Linked DNA regions of Homo sapiens: region 2 is linked to region 1. The links come from fine-mapping of genetic effects on plasma protein levels. A gene starts in region 1. The other region holds a variant in brackets. All regions are shown on one strand. Distances are between the middles of the regions.

Region 1 (9,551 bases):
TGTGCAAGCCATAATGCTTTTGGGTGAGTTTTCCCACTAAGGAAACCACACCACTAGTGGGATCAATTTCAAACAGCTTGAAGGGATTTCCTCCCACAATGCTGTAGTTCAGGTCTGCATTGATGCCATCATCACTGTCTGTTGCCAACACTGTAGCTACTACTGTCCTGACATTACTCGAAGGTGGCAGTAAAGTGTAGGAAATGTTTTTGGGAAGGGTAACTGTGGGAGCATTGTCATTTTCATCCATCACAAAAAGCGAGACTGTAGCTGTGGCAGATCTGGGAGGATCTCCCCCATCCACAGCCTTGACTCTGAAAGTGTATGTGGTCTGATGTTCCCGGTCAAAAGACATTGTGGAGTAAATGGTCCCCGTGTCATTTTCAATAGAAAAAATGTTATTGTTCTCCTCTATGTACAGGCTCATCTCTGCATTCCGCCCCTTGTCAGCATCCATCACGGTGACCATCCCCACAGGGCTGTTGGGCTGCAAGTTTTCTTTCACATAAAAGGTGAAGACGTCCTGCATAAACTTAGGGTCATTGTCATTTTTATCAGCCACCTGCACAATCACCGTAGTGCTGCCCTGCAGCACGGGGATGCCTTTGTCTTTGGCGTTAACTTTAAACTCATACCTGTCAGTCTGCTCGCGGTCCAGCACGGTATTGACCAGGATGTCCCCAGAATCGGGATCGATGGCAAAGATCCCCATCACAGAGGAGTCCAGCGAGTAGGCGATCTCGGCGTTCTTACCGCTGTCTGCGTCTGTCGCCAGCACCGTGGCCACCCTCTCGCCCGGGATGTTGTTCTCAGGGAAGTAAACCTCCACCACCGACTGGCCGAACATGGGCGGGTTGTCGTTGGTGTCTCCCACCTTGACAATCAGGGAGTTGTTGCTCGAGAGGCTGGGGCTGCCTGAGTCCACCGCCACGATGACCACGTTGAACTCCCGGGTGGCCTCATAGTCCAGAGGGGTCGAGGTGTGCAAGAAGTACTTTTTCTTGTTCTGGTCGCCCTCGGTGTCGCTGGCTGGCTTGAGCTGGAAGGGCACGTCGCCCACCACGGTGCAGGTGACCACCCCGTTCTCGCCTTGGTCTCGGTCGGACACCTGCACCAGAGCGATGGGGGTGTCGACCAGAACGTCCTCGGCCACGTTGGCCACCCCGTCCTTGAGGGGGATGCGCCCAATCTTGCGGATTTCAATGGACGGCACGTTGTCGTTCTCGTCTTTGATGTTAAGGACCACGGTGGCCTTGTCGGTCTTGGGGGGCTGCCCGCGGTCGCGGGCCATGACCGTGAAGCGCAGCTGGTTCACCTCCTCGCGGTCGATCCGGTGCAGGACGCTGAGCCAGCCGGACGTCTCGTCAAGGCGCAGCAGCCGCCTCACCGACTCGGTGGCCGCCCCGAACACGTATTCGATCTGCCCGTTGACCCCCACGTCCAAGTCGGCTGCGCGCAGTTGCAGGATGGGGGTCCCCGGGGCGCTGTTCTCAGCCAAGTCGGCCTCGTACACGCTCTTCTCGAAGCGGGGGCTGTTGTCGTTCACGTCGGTGATGAGGACCCGTAGGATGGCCTGCGAGGAGCGAGGCGGGTCGCCGCCGTCGCGCACTCGCAGGGTCAGCTCGTAGGAGTCGCGCTGCTCGCGGTCCAGCGCCCCCTTCACGATCAGCTGCGGCTGCTTCTCGCCGTCCGGGGTGTCCGCCACCTGCAGCTCGAACACGCTGCTGCGGCCGCCGGGGTTGGTGCCGCCGCCGCCCTCTGATGCGTCCAGCCGCCGCTTGGAGCCTCCCGAGCCGCCGCCGCTCGCGCCGTTCCCGCCGCCCCCGGGGTAGGGGGCGCTGTCGGCCGCCCCGGCGCGCCGGCTCTCGCCGCCGCTGCCGCCGCCTCCGGGCTCCTGGAGCAGCTCGTAGCGCTCGATGCCGTTGCGGCCGAAGTCGCGGTCGGTGGCTGTGGGCAGCAGGTAAAGTGTGCCCACCGGCCGATTCTCCTCCACCGTGAGCGTGAGCACGGGCGACGGGAAGGTGGGCGTGTTGTCGTTGATGTCAAGCACGATGACCTGACCCTCAAACAGGTCCACCCAGCTCTGCGAGGGCCCGATCACCGACACCTCGAAGTCCAGGAAGCACTCGTTCTCGTCGAAGATCATCTGACACTGGGGCAGCTTCTCGCGGTCGATGCGCCGCTCGCTCGTGCTCAGCTCGCCAGTGAGGTTGTCGATCTTCAGGTACTCGGAACCGGACTCCAGGCTGAAAGTCACCTCACCCGATCCGGTCACGATGCCCAGGTCTGAAGCCACGTTGCCGATGCGGACGTCGGCGGGGCCCTCCTCGGCCAGCCGGTACCGGAGGAGCTGCTTGGCGGCCGCCAGGCTGAGCGAGAGCGGCAGGAGGAGGCAGCAGCCCAAGCACCAGCCGCGCGCCCATCCCGCGGTCCGCATCCTCAGCATCTTCTCCTGCTGCTGCTGCTACTGCTCCTTCTAACCACAGCCCCCTCGGCGCCCCCCTCCTCCGGGGCCGGCCGCCTGCCCTCCCCCGAGTCCTCTCCCCTCTCCCGGAAAGGAAGGAGCGAGAGGGAGGGGAGGGAGGGGGCAAAAGCGGCGTGGAGAGTTGGCCGGGAATGGGGGTGGGAGGGCAGCGATAGATGCTTCTTTTTTTCCTCCTGCTTCTTCCGAAAGTTATTGTTTCATAATTCATGCAATGGGTGCTAATCGCCCGCTCGCCTGCCGCCGTTCAGTCGCAGTACTCACAGTTCACGGGACACTGCGCGCCGCGGGTTCGGCGCTCCCCCAACCCAGAGTCATCCCCTCAGCGGGCGGAGAATCCCCGGCTCTAGTCCCCGCTCTGTCGGAAGGGGCCAGAACCGCTCCGGCAGACGGGCAGTGGGGCTGGGAAGAGGTGGGGAATGAGCCTGCAGCCTCCCCCGCCTGCCAGCCCGCTGGTCTTTGCTGCTACTCGAGTTGAGTCCAATTCACGTTCCAGGCACTCACTCCAAACCCAGGCTCTGCTCCGGCTCCGGCCACCCAGACAAACGTGAGTCGCTTCCTGCACCAGGCGCTGGGGCCAGCAACAAGCCAGTCTCAACTCCGACTCTGCTCATGCAGCGGGGGAGCCAGTCAACAGATCGAGAATGAAAAATCCCCCGGCACGTCGCTTCGGGCACGGTGCAGGGGAGACTACTCGCGTCACAGAGCGGTCAGTGTCAGGGTCCCCCCGGCGCGCCAAAGAGAAGCCCGAGCCATCTTCAGAGACGCCCAGAGTCAGTCCCTTCTCACCCCGGAGAGCGCGGGTTTCTCTTTTTTCTTAACAACTCTGCGCAAGGTCATTAGTCACGAAGCAGCCGCCTGAAACCGCAGCAGCCTTTCGCCCACGGGGGCGAAGGCTGAGCAGTGCGCACCGTGCGGTGCCCAAGTTTGGGTTCGCAGCCGCAGAGTCCGTGCCTTTTCTCACCTGCATTCGGCCCGCATGTCGGAGCAGTGGGATCTGCAGCGCTGTGCGCGATTCAGGGAGGAGATTGCAGCCTCTCTCTCCCCGCTCTCTCTCGATCCCTCCCCTCCCTCCCTCCCTTTCTCTCTCCTCCCTCCTCTCTCTCCTCCCTCCTCTCCTTTCCCCTTTCCCCCTCTCCCACTCGCTCTCTTGCACGCTCTCTCTCCTTCCCAATGCAGGGAACTCAAGCTGAACTTGATCCCTTTGCAGTTCAAAGGTGAGCAAACCAGGCTCGGAGCACAGGCGACGTTAGCCGGCGAAAGCGCACGGCCGGGCGTCCCCAACGGCAATTAACAAAGATGCCCAATTCTGTCTGGATTTCCGAAGAAAAGCCAAAGGCTTTCGGGCGGGGGTGGAGGGGGAGGTGGAGTCAGAGACAGCTGCCAAGTAGCTTAAAAAAAAAAATCCAGTTTGCCAAGGGGAGAAAAAGTGTCAGTCGGTTGTGGCCTCGGAAGTGCCCTGGCACGGCTGGTGAATTCCGCAGTTGTCTCGTCCCTTTTCGCGTCTGGGAGAGTCTGGTGCGGGCGCTCCCGCCGCCCCTCGGGCTGCAGCGGCTCGGAGACACTGAACCGCTAGTGGGAATCTCCCGTTCGCTACCCGCGAGCAGGAAACCCGCAAGTTGCCCAAAGTGGTGGTTGCTGCTGGGTGCTCGCTCGCTCACGGATCAGGCTTGTCCCTGACGCTGCTGCTGCAGCGGCGGCGGCAGTAGCAGCCGAGCCGCCGAAACTACACACTAGGAGAGAGCGAGGGAGGAGGGCCCGGGATAAGGAGGCGGGAGGGAGCGTCAGCCAGCCGCCGCGCTCGGGAAAGCCCAGCCTCAGCTCCAGGGGCCGCTCAAAGTGTGCCCAATCCCAGCCAGTCCTCTTTAAGCCAAAGCCCAGTCCCCCTCCCTAGCGAGTACCGCCGTCTTCTCTGGGGGACTTGTTTTCCCTCCCTCGGGCTGGTAAATTTCCTCCTCCCTTGACTAATGCCCAGTTCACGCGTGAGAGCTTTCGGAGCTGGTGTCAGGATAGGTTTCTCCTTCTCCCTCCCTCTCAGACGACGTCCTCCTCCCCCCGGAAAGTGTCTCCGGTTCGCGATTTAGGATCTTGGTTAGGACATGGTTATCGGGGTCCTGGGGAACCTACGAGCGCCCAGAAAGCCACTCTGTTCTGAAAAACCATGACGGGCTGCAGTAGTGAAGAGAGAACATCAAACTCCAGAGAGCTGGAGAAAGATCCTTTTTTGGGAGCTCAGACTTTGGATGGTTGCGGGGGGCAGGGGCGGCGGTGGGTGGAGGGTGAAGGATGTCTGTCTTTGTTTAAATGCTTGACATTCCTGTCGTCGTGCTTGCTTGCGGGGGTAGACCGTGTGTGCGCGCCTGGGGAATAAACACATGTTGGAAACCTCGATATTATTTTCTGAGCAGAAACCTGCAGCCTTTAGTAACTGGCAAAGTGTAGCGTCACCTATCTGGATAAAAGGGAAATAAACTTTAATGGCAACTTTGTGTACCAAAGTGTCCCCAGCTTTCCCATCTCTCCTTTTGACTTTGTGTCCCTTGACTGTCCCTATTTCCTGAAGCAAGGCTTCTCCAATTTTCATTCACGACCACCGCAGCCGGCCTCATCAGATCTCAGGTCTGGTTGTGTTTTTGAACTGAGCCATTTACTCATTTATTTCAGTGGCTGTAAACGAAGAGGCCCGGCTAGGATTAAGACGACTGAGACGGACTGTAGGTATTTGGGGAGAATTTTTACCATCTCGAAAGAGAGAAAGGGCCGCTGCTGGGATTTGCTTAGTCTTCAGCTCGCCTGACGTATCCATACACATTTAAGGGCCTCCCCTCAAAGAAAAATTTAAAGCCGAAAAAATAAAATCTGTCCAGTGTGGGTATTCTTTACGAGACCTGGGTGACGAGGCAGAATGATTTAAACAAGACAAACACCAATAAAGTCAACGAGCAGATGTAGCGCGCGGTTGTTTGGGCGGGCGCAGGAACAGGAATGAGGAGGGAGAGGCGGCAGAGATTTCCAAGCTCTCCCTACAGGGGATCGTAGATGCCCGTTGGATGGAAGTGTGTCTAAGTGTGTGTCAGGGAGCTGGCGAGTATTTTCCAGTCTGTGAAAGTAGCATCACCCCAGGGGTGGTGGCTCCTCCTCCGAGGCCAGGGCAGGGAACCCGGCCTTCCCGCTAACCCTCCCGCTGCTGGCACCCGAACCTCTCAGCTCTGTATCTGCAGCATCAGCGAGAAAAGCCCCGCGCGCAGGCTCAGTGCGCACCGCCGCAGTCTCGAGCCGGGGGCGGGGGTGGGCTCCGCAGCGCCTTCGCGGCCGGCTAAGTGGCAGTAAAGCCAAATCCCTCTTACATTTGGCAAGAACCCGGGTTTATCGGAACGCCTGCCTCTCTCCAAACCTCCGACCCTGGTTCCCCTTTTTCCCAGGTTGGAGGCAAATGGGAGAAGCCGTCTCCACTCCGCGGCCTTGCGCCGTGCATTCCGATGCGCGGCAATATGGTGCAGTGCACTCACTCCCCTCATCGCCTTACTAAGATTTTGCAAACTTCAGGCAGCCGCTTGGGCAGAAACGTTGTGCACTCCCTCTTCCCTCTCCAGACCATAAACTTGAATAAGCCTCTCCGCATCTTCAAAGCATTTGCTCGCGGCTCTGGCGCGCACTCTCCAGGCGCACACTTGAGCGGGGCGCGAAGGAGTGGGCGGCTTTTCCTCAGCGCGCTGCACATTTCTTCCCGGATGACTAGGGAGTTGCAGCGCGTCCTTCACAGTGGAGTGGTTTCCTCTTTGCGAGCGGGAGGAAGTCTCCAGCCCGCCCTCCTCACTCTCATTCCTACCAACTTCGCGGCGGAGCCAAGCCAGCGTGGGAAATGGGTCCGACGTGTGCTGCATGGAGAACAGCGAGGACAGACTGCGGGGGCCAAGAAGCCTGCTGGCTTTGCTCCCACCCCCATCAGTCCCAGGCTCCGACCTTTCTGCCAGAGCAGCAAAGAAGTGGCGGCGGCTTTGCCCTGCAGCGCCGTTCTGGGCAAGCAAAGGAAATGGGCGGGGTAGGGGTACGGGGGAGGTGAGAGGAGCCCTCGGGGCGCCCTTGCGGCGGCTGGAGCTCCCAGTCCTCTTCCGCCCCCTCTCTAGGGGCTGACACTCTCTCCTCTCGCCGGCGCAGAGGATGAATGAAGAGAGAAGCAGTTTCTCCCACCCCCGCCCCATTTCCGCAGTCTTAGAGCCAGTGTCACAAGTGCTCAGCAATTTCATTAAATGGAACCGGGAGACTTAATCCCCCCCGGTACCAGACCTCACCGAGGGAATGTGATATCCGGCTTCGCTCCCACCCACCAACCCCCCCCCCCCCCCCCCCCCGGCTTCTCAGACCCGAGGCTGCATTTATCTACTCAACCTGAGAGGAAAGGGTTCAGAAGGAAATGGGATCGAAAGTGTAACCGCCTGCAATAAATTAAAGAGCCTGCTGCTGCTGCTGCTGCTGCTGCTGCTGCTGCTGCTTTGGCGGCCAGAACTGGAGAGAGAAAATGAGATCAGTGCCCTAAAGCTTGCATCGATCAGAGTGATTAGACGTCATCGCATGTAGGAAGCAAAATGTTTGAGGGAATGTTGAAATGGAGATTTCTGTTTTTTCTTTAGTGGCTTTTTAAAAAAGAACAATAAAAGGAAATACCCCTTTGAAATCAAGATGTAAAAAATGAAATTGATTAAAATATAAATATCATCCCGTGCTAATATGCATTTAATAAAACCTTGACAAACGATTCATTTTCTGTGCCAGAAATCTTACCCTAAACTTAAAATATTCAGTAGATTTTTTTTTTTTAATTTACCTACTAACCTCGCTTGCTTAAACCTGTTTTGCCGTTAAGAAATTTCAGTGGCTGAACTGAAAAATAGCATTCAGGGTCCCTGATGTAGTTCAAGCCTCAAGAAAAGACAGTAAGAGAAGTAACTACAACAAAAGTTTATGGTTAAGAATACAAAGTAGATGCTGGAGATGTGATCTCAGGGGGCCTTTCATTTATAATAGACGCTGTATTCACAATAATATGAGAAAAAGGTTAAATACAGTAAACACGATAGCCAGTTCTGGAAAGATAAAAACAGTTTGACAGAAAAGGAGAAAGTAACTCAAGAACTCCACCAAGGGACAAACAGAGGAAATGACACTCGGATATCTCTAAATCCATTGACCTTTCATCTTTTTAAAAAGGGTCTTCTATCTGTAGACGTGTTTTCTAGGCCTTTATGATCAACCATTTCTCTAACCCCTTTCGCTAAATTTGATACTTCAGTCTTCCTTTTCTAAATAATTACTACAAACGATTGTCCTTTAAACATATATTACTTGAAAGAGTAAACATATCTGTGCATAACTATTCCAAGTATGATTCTGATCCTTGAGACTCTGAGAAACTTTAGATATATTTTACAGCCTTAAATCCATGCTTGTAGTATTAACATGTTTAGTAGACTGAAATGACTAAATTATTCATTGCAATAACAGCCTTTTTGATAGACATTAAAACTCATCAGTTTAAATAAGGAAACCACAGATTTCCTTTTAAGCAGGTAATAACTGCTTGCATCAGTGGTTATTTAATTGGTTTCTAGCCAAGACATAGAATAAGTTGTGCTGTTTAAATCAAGAAATCATATGCAAAGCTATATTTTACAGTGTATCTATAAAAGAAGCACACAGAAACTAAACTAAGTTGATTCATACTATCTACTGGATAACTATAAACATTTCCACAAGGCCGATATGAAAATCTCATTTACAAAAAAAAAAAAAAAAAGAAGAAGCTTTGAAAAATAAAATTTTAAGTGTTTATTAGCTCACACGCTGTCTGGTTTTCAGATTTCAATAGAGTGTTTTAGGTTTTAAAATAACACAGAATAAATGATTTTTACCTTAAGTTTAGCACATATTGACAGTTGATTTTTTATTCATTTTCTAAAGGTTTACATGCCAAAATATGTGCAATATAGCAGAGATTTACAAGTCATGACACACATAAAAAGATCCAGTCAGTGACTATAACTGGCATTTGTCTTTTACTTACAAGATCATTAGTTTATGAATTTTTTCAACTTTACATTAATTTTCATACATTTACAAAAATGTAAGTTGGGGGCACACAGTATTTTATAAAATCTGGATTACTTCTGGGAAAAAGACCCTTGATAGGTTAAAAGCAGTACATCCTATTATTTAGGGTCATCTGAAGCTATCTCCTTTCACTATTGATGGTAAAATTAGACCTACCAATGCCCTTTGCAGTACGAACTTGGGAGATTTGCATATTTTTACTATCGTGGCAGGATATATCAAATACTGCTGTGGATAATGACCTCTAAGCTAGATAACATGTTAAGGATTTGGGGGAGAAATTTCATTATAATTGCTTGGACAAATTTAATTCCCAAACAAATGACCTTGCTTATAACAAGAATGGTTGAAAATTATGTATTAGCTTTAGAAGTTTTAGCACCTGGCTGTGTCGACCTAGCTAGGCCACTTCTTATGTTCATTCTGAATAACAGGCGGTAGAAAACTTTATTCAAACAAATTTGATTGATTGTAATTAGGAAATACATAATGTGGGATGTTTCTAGAATGAGAAATATAAGAAATTTGACTATTTCAGCAGCAATGAATTTTCTAACGACAGATGCTGATACTTATAGGGCAGTCATTGAGAACTTTCCCCAAGTATTTCTGACTGTGGCTTCTGGGCCTAACATGGAATTGTACCTCTTGGCCCCCTTGTGGCTAGATGAGGCCATTAACCAGTTCCGGGCAGCCCTAAGTGGAAGAGGAATTTCACTTCCCTGGGAAATACGGGTGCTGGTATGTAGTCATTGTTCAACTCTGTATAAGTCAGACTGGTTGTGAATTTGACTTAGGACCAATACTTGAAGAATTCAGTAAACTTCAGGCTGACATTGATTTGGGAAAGTGGTAGTACCTTTTCGATACCCATTTCAGTGCTTTTAAAATAAATCATCCATGTAAAGCTGAATTAAGAAGCATATCAAAGTAGATAATATGGGTTCAACAATACATCCCT
Region 2 (9,567 bases), 440 kb before region 1:
ATCTGGGACATGTGGTAACATTTTTAAAGAGTTGAATGAATGGGATAGGAAAGAGAATGTTGACTGGAATATGGAATAACTCAAACTTGCGTTTGAGACTCTTAACCAGAATTTTCTTAGAGCCTAGATCTAAATTTAATTAGGTGGAATCTATTGTATTCATTGTCTTAGAACCTTTAAATATGATTCATATTTATCTCCGTTTTATAATAGTAGAAGTTGAATCTTCACAATCAAAAAGGAGAGAAAGCTTGTGTTTAACTAAAATAGTTTTATACATTGTCCCTATGGAAATTCTAGATGCATACAGATGCTTGTGGCAAAGTGCTTTTTTATACAATATAACAGGGGAAAGTTTAGAATGAAGAAGTAATTTTGTGAATAAATCCTTTCTAAAACAGGCTGAAGTTTCTGAACATACTCACAATAAAAATTGGGGTGCCATTCATTTAGAGGATAATTACATTATAGAACCGGCAGTTAAGAACACATTTTCAATGATGCTTTCTGTAAATTAGTTAAAGGGCTATCTTCCTTCCTGCCTTCTTCTCTTCTTTCTTTCATGTTTCACATCTTACTGGGCTTCAACTATGTGTCATAAACTGGGTTAGTTTATTGTGATATAATATTGAATAATGTAGACAGGTTGTCCTAAGTCCTCTCGGAACTTAGAATCTAGCTGGAAAGCCTGTCTATTTGTTGATCCTATAATATAAAGGCCATCAGAATTCATACTTAGGATTACAAAAATAAAAATTATACCTTCCCTCTTCAAATTAGTGAGTATTCAGTTAGTAAATTAATATTATCCACAATCAAGTTCAACTTCAACTTGACCATATGACACACATTTCTAGGACTTGAATACTCATATTGACTGACCTGAGTTTATTTTTTTTGCAAACCTGATATCTTGAATTTTTATCAATCACAGCTTTAAAATTTGCAACATATCGATTATAAACAAACAGACATAGAAGCTGTAATTTACAGAAACCCAGTAGTATTAAATAGGCCACAAAACTGTGCTCACAGAATCTCCAGAATTATTTAAGACTCCTGGCAAAGGCGCAGTTCCACAAAGCTCTGTACCCTATTCACCTGGGACCACTCCTGAAGTCAGCTTCTCCCAGCCTCTGAAGCAGCAGTAGATTATGCAAGATAATGAAATGTGTTTGTTTTATGGAAAATATTTTTTGAAAGATACATTCATTCAGAGATTTAGAAAGTCTATCTTTAGCTTCTGACAGGTTGTGTGTAAAGAGTCACCTACCCTTATACGTCTGAAGAGCAGGAGCAAATGAGACTTCACTTTTATTAATAAATGAAGGGTAAATCATGTGGCGAGGGGCACAGACTCTGGAGGCCAAAGTCTTGGGTTTGAATTTGTAATCCACTGTTGGTAACCTTGAGCAATTTGCTGAACTTTTTTGTGTCTCAGTTTACTCACTTGAAAAGTAAGATGGTAAGATTCATTCTCATAAGATTGTTTTGAAGGTTAAATAAGTTAATAAACATAAAACTCTTGGAATAGTTCCATACATATAGAAAATCATATACATATGTATACGTGTGTGTTTAATAAATATAGTAAATTAATTTATTTTAATTTGAAAATTAGCTGTAATTGAATTGCACAGAGTGACCCAAGAGTGATCACATAATCACATGTTTAAATTTTACCTTTCTTTTACTGTAGACATACATACATGTTGAATTAAAACATGAAGAGAAGAAAAAAGGATCTGAAGAAGAAAGTCTAGTGTTAAAATTAAATATCCAGAACAACAGAGAAGGCATATGGGAATTACAGTAGAAATGTCATTTAAAATTTTCTCTTGTAGATCATTTATTGTGCTGGCTGTAAAAGACAGTGCTGACTGTACATCATTCCTTGAAAGAGTATCCTCAAAGTCATGATTGCTTCTCTTGCATTAGTAGAGTTCCGTTTTTGCAAAATGCAAATCAGAGACCTTATTCTCTTAGTTAGCCTACTTAAGTTTAGATGGAAGAAGTTTTGACATATATGATACCCTTACTGACTAATTTTACAACACAGGAGTGGCTAAGCAAAATTCACACAAAATTTCAAGAAGGAGCCCAACAGTCTTTTTTTGTTTTTCCTTTGGCAGAATAAAACAGCCACCTCTTCTCTCCCAGCTTAGAGATGTAAGTGGAATTACTTCTTTACATAAATTCAGTAAAAGATGTAAGATAAGATAAGTAATGATTCTAAAAATGTTTACAACAAATAAAATTTTGGCATATATTAATTTATATTATTCTCAAAGAAACACTATGGGTATTAATTCTTAAGTATTACAGATTCTGAAACACATATTCAAAGCTATGTCAAATTATATCATAAATAGTGAAACAGTCTCAAAAAAGAGTATTATGATCTATTTTTTTTGACTCTTGGCATTACTATAAATCATAGTACCTTTTTGTGAGTAGTAAATAAAAACACCTATTAATCTGCAACCAGTCACTCAACATTAGTGCATTAGTGAACACTGAAATTGTTGAAATACTGAATGATTTAGCAGAAAGTGTGTTCAATTACTTCCAAGAATTATTCTATAACTACATGTAGTGTCACTCTAGAAATCATTTAGTTCTGGAACATAGTTTCTCTTAAGATGGAGACCTCAAAAACAAAGACAAGATATCATGGTAAGGATTTTATCCATCAGAGTCTTGGGTGCCAATATTTTCTCATTAGCATTTGCATAATAAGAGATATGGAAAAGATACTGAGAAACATTTTAATTTTCTGTCTACAAGTTCTGTAAGATGGGATATAAATACAAGAAGCAAATATTTCAATAAGGAAGGTGAAAGATTGAATTATTCCACTGTGGTCAATACTTTTGATTTTTGTCATTGTTTTTGTTGTATTTTTTTGTTTTATTTTTTTATTTAATACTTTTTATTTTAAAAGGTGTGGATTCAAGAAATAAAATGGGCTAATGTCTGTTTCTCATCCACAAATTAAGTCATTCTGCTGTGAGGAGGAGTGGAATATGAGGCAGGAAACTAAGAGTGTTTTATAAAACTCTGTCTCATATAGGAAAGGATAAATGAAAAAATGATATTCCTCTCCTCAATCAGAGTTTCGAGGAATAGAGAGATGATTTTTGAGTTGAAACAATCAAAGTTGGTACTAGGGAATCTAAGATTGATGTAAGCCTTGTACCATGGGCAGGATTTGAGTAGGTTTTCAGGAAGCACATGTTTTGTGATGAGGGAATAACGTGTAAAAATGGCTTAGTGATTTAAATATAAAAGGCAAGTTCAGAAACAATAAACATGAGTAACTAGAGCAGAGTAGCCATGGGAAACATTGGGGCAGATACAACTGGAGAGGTCAGATGATACAACAATATGAAAAGAATGCTGGGAATATGCATTTGTTTTCTGCATTTTCATGCTTTTGATCCTATAGTCAATACCATTAAGCAGGTATTCCAGGTTTAGGATTAAAATGCTCACTAAAAGGCAGATGCTAGGTAAACTCTTTCAGGGCCCCTTGGAAACAGCTCTGGGACTCAAGGCTGCTGAGATAAGGAAAATGGTTAGAGCTTCACAATTAGAATCAATCAGCTTGAACCATTTTCTGCCTCTGGGTTCTCCTCCAAATTGGAGAGAGGATCAAATTGGCCCAACTTGAATTCCCTACCCAGTATGTGGCCAGGGGAAAATAGAGACACTTAACCACAGACAGCTGGCAAAGGAAAACTGAGGTGATTTTGCCAAGAGATGGCAGAAGAAAGGCTTGGTTGATGAAATGAACAGATGTCCACCATTAGTGATGTGTCTAACAGTAGGTAAGGGAGTTTTAATCATACACAACGTGGATGTGAAAAATGGGGCTAAGAAGCAGAGCACTTACAAAACTGCTGTATTATAGGATGACAGGGACCCTGCCCCTCTTCTCATTGTGCTCTAGGAATTCTGAATACTTGCAGGCACTACCTCTGATTTTTCTGTTTACATATATTTCACCTTTAGCATTACTGTTCCCTGTGCTTGAGATACTTATCTTCCCCCTTATTGGTTTTCTTACCTCCACTTAATCTTTCCATGCTGACTTTTAAAGAACCTTCTTTATCAGCTTCCCCAGCTGCTTCAGACAGACCAGTCACTATGATTTTATTTATAACCATATCTATCTATGTCACTTTTACTAGATATAATGCCTGTCATCTCTTTCTATGGCCCAAAGCAGCAGATTTAAGAATTTCCTGTGGTTGTATCATCATACTTTGTTTCACCTTATCCTGCACTCAACTGATGGCAGCAGGATGACCTGAAAGCAGCCAGTAGGATGACCAGCAGTCTATGCACTCAATCATTCTGTCTACTGTCAGAATGTAACAAGCCTGTCCAATGGAACACATGCTGGAGAAGGTTAATTGAATTAAATTCAGATTTAAATAGCTACTTGTGGCTAGTGGGTACCCTGTTGGAGGAAGCATGTCTAAAAAGAACAACTAAGGCCACAATAGGAATTATGGAAGCAGAGACAAAGATGAGCCAAGTCATAGCTGTGGCCAAGAAGACATCAAGGAATCTATGATATAAGGGGATTATTAAGGACTAAATGTCTGTGTGCCTCCCTCCAAATTCATATGTTAAAATCCTAATCTCCAATATGAAGGTATTAAGGATTGGGAGGTAATTAGGTCATGAAAGTAGAGCCATCATAAATGGTATTAATGCCCTTGTAAAAGAAACCCTAGAGAGTTCTCTCATCTTCTTTCAGTTATCTGAGAATACAGTAAAACAAAAGAAATGCAACCTAGAAGAAAGCTCTCACCAGAACCTGACCATGCTGGTACCCTGGTCTCAGACTTCCAACTTTTAGAACTGTGAGGAATACATTTCTGTTGTCTATAAGCCTCTCAGTCTATGACACTTTGTGATAGTAGCCTGAACAGACTAAGCTAGTTTATTAGTCAGGATTCTCTAGAGGGCGAGAACTAATAGACCATATATGTGTGTGTGTGTGTGTGTGTGTGTATGTGTGTGTGTATACACATAGATATATGTGTATATATGTATATATACGTGTGTGTAGATATACATATATATGTGTGTGTATATATACGTATATATATGTGTGTGTATATATATGTATATATATACACATATATATACGTATATATGTGTGTGTATGTATGTATACGTATATATGTGTGTGTGTGTGTATATATATATATAT[G/ATG]AGTTTATTAAGTAATATTAACTCATGAAATCACAAGGGTCCCACAATAGGCCATCTGCAAGCTAAGAAACAGGGAAGTCAGTCTGAGTCCCAAAGCTGAAGAATGTAGAGTCTGATGTTCAAGGGCAGGAAGCATCCAGCATGGGAGAAAGATGTAGGCTGGGAGGTTAAGACCATCTAGCCTTTTCACGTTTTTCTGCCTGTTTTATATTCTGGCCATGCTGACAGCTGATTAGATGGTGCCCACCCAGATTAGGGTGAGTCTGCATTTCCCAGGCCACTGATTCAAATGTTAATCTCCTTTGGCAACACCCTTACAGACACACCCAAGATCAATACTTTGCATCCTTCAATCAAATCAAGTTGACGCTCAGTATTAACCATCACAGCTATGAATGAATAGAAGTGTTAAACCTGGATGGCATAATGAATAACCACTCAGTTCCATGAGGGGAGGCTTTTCAGCTGCTGAGATAGACCCTGAACTTTCGTACTTCTCACAACTATAGAGACTACCTTAGACTGTCTCAATTCTTTGAGAGGGCACCAAATAATGCAATTCTTTAATCATAAAATATTCAGATATTTTTCCAGGAAGGGAGACAGAGAGCAACCACTTGGGGGTTCATCTTCTTACCACTATCCCTGATACATTTAACTCCTACACCCTCATCCTTCATTCCCCAAACTCCTCCTTCATGTTCATTCCTTCTCTATCATTTCCCCATCAAAAACCACTTTCAATTCTTCGCTTCTTCATATTCTCTCAGATCATCCAGCCTACATATGCTGCTATCTTTGCCTGAAAATCTCTTCATCCTTCTACTCCCAACTGTGCATTATCATTCCTGATCGTGGATGCCTCTTGCTCTCAGTGGCTATTCTTGCTGCAGAAATTCAAGATAGATGTCCCACACATTAGTCCAAAGAACCGTTATTTTCTTTGAACATACCAAGTACCAAGTGTTATGTGGTTCTTGTTAATTTTGATAATTTTTCCTCTAGATTACCTCCCACCTGGATTATAACTCTATAAGAGAAGGAGCAAGCCATATCTTGCCCACCACTGTACCCAAACATCCAGCATTGTATATGTCTCATTTATTTTTGTTAAGCTAATAAATTGCATCCACATTTCATGGAAGAAATGCACAAAGTCAAAAAAAATTCAGGAAAAAGATATGAGCAACTTTTCTGCAAGGTTATGATACATTTTTAGAAAGTGTTTCCTTAGTTACATTATTCTTATGTATTTGATAATGAGGATAAACATCTTTAAAAGCTAGAATGATGGTGACCATTTTCCTAGATGACTTTTCCAATTGGTCATCAGAGAAGACTGAGAGATAGTATCACACCTGGAGAAGACTAAGAGTTGGTATCACATCCTTGAGAAGAAGTTGCTTATTGCAGTATGCTTTCTGATTTGAATCTTAGCCTAGAAATTTTCCTCTGCCTCACACAGTTATAAGCAGGACTTCATATTGGTTAAAACAGAATCAAATTACAGATACAAATACATGTTGAGTTAATAGGAACATCTAGACTTTCCTAGATAGACGTTGACCAAGGTATGAGTGAAATATATCTGTTCCACCTAATTCCTCCATGCTGGAGATTGTAAATCTGTGTGAGAAGAGTGATACCTCCAGGAATTCTTTCCCATCATGGTGTGCATGAACAAGTATGCCAGAGAACAAGTCCTTTTTTTTTTTTTTGTAGTGAGTCCAGTGAAAACAAGCAATGCAAATGCTGAATCCAAATTAACTTCCGGTAATTCAGCTTTGATTCACTATCCTGAATAATCAGGATTTTATATTTGCAACTCAGGTTGAAATTAACCCTGAAGATATTCTTCTGTATACATTTCTTCTTGCCCTTCTTGAAGAGTTAAAGTATAAATTGGTACCTTCATCTTAATTGAAACACCGACGCAATGTATGATTCTTTGTCAGTGTTGGGCTTGACTACAATAGAATGAAGATTATTTTTCCACCTGTGACACTGTCATTATAATCATCTGACTTATATTTATAGTCAAGTGGGAGTGATTCTCTGATGACTTAGAGCCTTTAAAGCTGAGGATAACAAAATGCTGGCTGAGAAGCACATATAAATCCCAAGCAGAGAGAAAAATCAAACCACCTGTTACAGTATTTGTTTTCATCTAATAAAATATAGAGAAAAATAGAAATAATGAGTTTGGAGTATTCTAGGCAATTTAAGGAAAGAAGTCAATAGGCAGTATACTAAACATCTCTCTCTGAACCCCAGTAATTGACATAGCAGGGGCATACAAAAAAAGATGGTTCACTGGAGGCTGACTTTCTCTAGATAAAAGCTAGATTGCTCATCCATTTCATCCTCTTTTTGCCAATAACATCTGTAGCCTTGAAGCAAATTTTCCAACATGGTAGCATTATTCTCAATTGCCATTTTTCATTTCTTAATCATCTATGGACTGACAGTATCTCAGTACCTGTTCCATTCAACTGATAATTTATCCTTTTTGCTTTCAACTATATTTCCAGATTATTTTAGTCAATGAGAATATTGTTTCTCAGACTAGATATAGATTTATATAGTAGTTTTTTCAATAGCTTCACTTTTGGAGGTTCAACAAAATCAACTCGTCCCATCTACAACAAAGCTGAAATCTATAATAATTCCCAGATTGAGGCTTTAGAGATAGTCATACTGGTGAATCCAAATAGAAATATCCAGTGAAGATGCCGAAGCACCTATTCATAGTTTCTATGTTGATCACCTAAATAATAGGTTTGTTATAGTAGTTGATATTTTTTGGTATGATTGTGTGCTATATAATACTTCCCTCAAAACATAAGCCTCACATTTAATTTACCAAGTTAAAAGTGTTCACATTTAACCTTCACATGAATATTATTTCCTTTGCATTAGTTTAAAAACAATCTCTGAAGTTATTTAGCATATCATTCACTTTGCTGGGATAGAAAATAGCTAATGTGAAATGTCATAAGAGAATGATAATTTAACATTTTTGAAATACAGTTTTCTTTGGGGGCATGATCAGATAAAGAATGTCCAATGCTTTAACATTAAGTGGTGTCTTTTACTATTTTTAAGTTTATTCACTGAACTACCCATAATTTTAAAATATTATCAAAATGTCCACTTTTTCATATTGTTATTATAAAATATATTCATTGTGTACAATTTGGAAAACACAAACAATAATTATAAATAAGCTCCAAGAATGCTGTTATGTTCATCACAGTATTTCTTCTTTTTATTTTGTGCATATCATGCTCTAGATATGAAACTTCGTACCATTTTTTTATTTAACACAATATAATGAGAACTTATCCATAACATTTAAATACAAGTATGTTAAAGTTTTTGATCCAATAGAAAATAGCAAATCTCCCACCTCTAATCCCAAGTGGGCACTTCTAGAATAAGACACTCTTTTTTATTTTTTTAACTTTTTAAGTGGAGGAAGATTACCGCATCAGGATATGAGCTTTTTTTCCAGTGGCCTGAGGACATTGTGCACAATGACCTGCTTCTCTTACAGAGTCAAACTTTTGTGATCTAGGGGTGAGATTTTTTACATAACTAGTCAATGGGAAGCTGGTCAACGAGAAGGAAAGACTCTGATAACTAGGGTGACCTCATAATTTAACTTTTAAGCATGAATAATAATGAATGTGTTGGAAAAGCCATAAACCAGCACTGTTCTAGGCAAACAGGAACATATTTAAGGAAGGCATAAGAAAGGAAATTTTAGTAATAAATTCTAAAATTCGTATCAGTTGAAATCATTTTGGGTACACCATGGTCAGTAAACTAAAATCTATTGGCCAAATCCAGCCCCACTGCCTATTTTGTATGTCTTCTCAATGAAGAATGGTATTTATGCATCTAAGTGATTGAAAAAAAAATCTTAAGATGTGATTCTTTCCTGTCATATAATACCTACACAATATCCTTCATTTTGAATCTTGAATTACAAAGCCTAAAATATTTATAATCAGGCCCTTTATAGAAAAAGTTTGTCACTCTCTGTATATGCTAATATATTCTACTTTAATCATTCATATTGTTTAATACTTTGCTACTTATCCATTTCTCTGATTTGGTGGTTCTCACAACCGAGTAAAATATGGGCTCTTGTAAAGAAAAAAAAATGTTTTCAAACTGCAGAGAATACAGTTTTTCACACAATAGATGAGTAAACATTGACTTACAAAGCAAACTTTCATTCTATGAAACTCAGTTTCAGCTGGGCACGGTGGCTCATGCCTGTAATCTCAGCACTTTGGGAGGTCAAGGTGGGTGGATCACGAGGTCAGGAGATC

Alleles and levels. Alleles are on the strand shown, and positions count from the first base shown. The strength of an association depends on the size of the effect and on how common the allele is.
With allele ATG in place of G in region 2, the plasma level of the protein whose gene starts at base 3,500 in region 1 is higher (weak association).

The links. PIP is the chance, under the fine-mapping model, that this variant and not a neighbour inherited with it causes the effect. Protein levels are from antibody-based Olink assays in UK Biobank. Linkage for the fine-mapping came from a reference panel and not from the study's own genotypes, which makes the PIPs less certain.
Region 2: its variant is fine-mapped to the plasma level of the PCDH7 protein (UK Biobank, PIP 0.97).

What each region holds. Positions count from the first base shown.
Region 1 is chr4:30,714,318-30,723,868 of GRCh38, reverse strand. It overlaps PCDH7 (protocadherin 7), which reads right to left and starts at 3,500. Exons shown (of 3, transcript NM_001173523.2): 1 at 1-3,500. The coding sequence starts at 2,446. It overlaps LOC124900844, which reads left to right and starts at 4,748. Exons shown (of 1, transcript XM_047416545.1): 1 at 4,748-7,238. The coding sequence starts at 5,962. The coding sequence ends at 6,528. RefSeq lists an enhancer at 1,981-2,691.
Region 2 is chr4:31,150,586-31,160,152 of GRCh38, reverse strand. No RefSeq gene overlaps it. Among named protein-coding and RNA genes, the nearest start is that of LINC02497, 16 kb to the left of the region's middle. The variant G/ATG (reference allele first, on the strand shown) is at 5,228.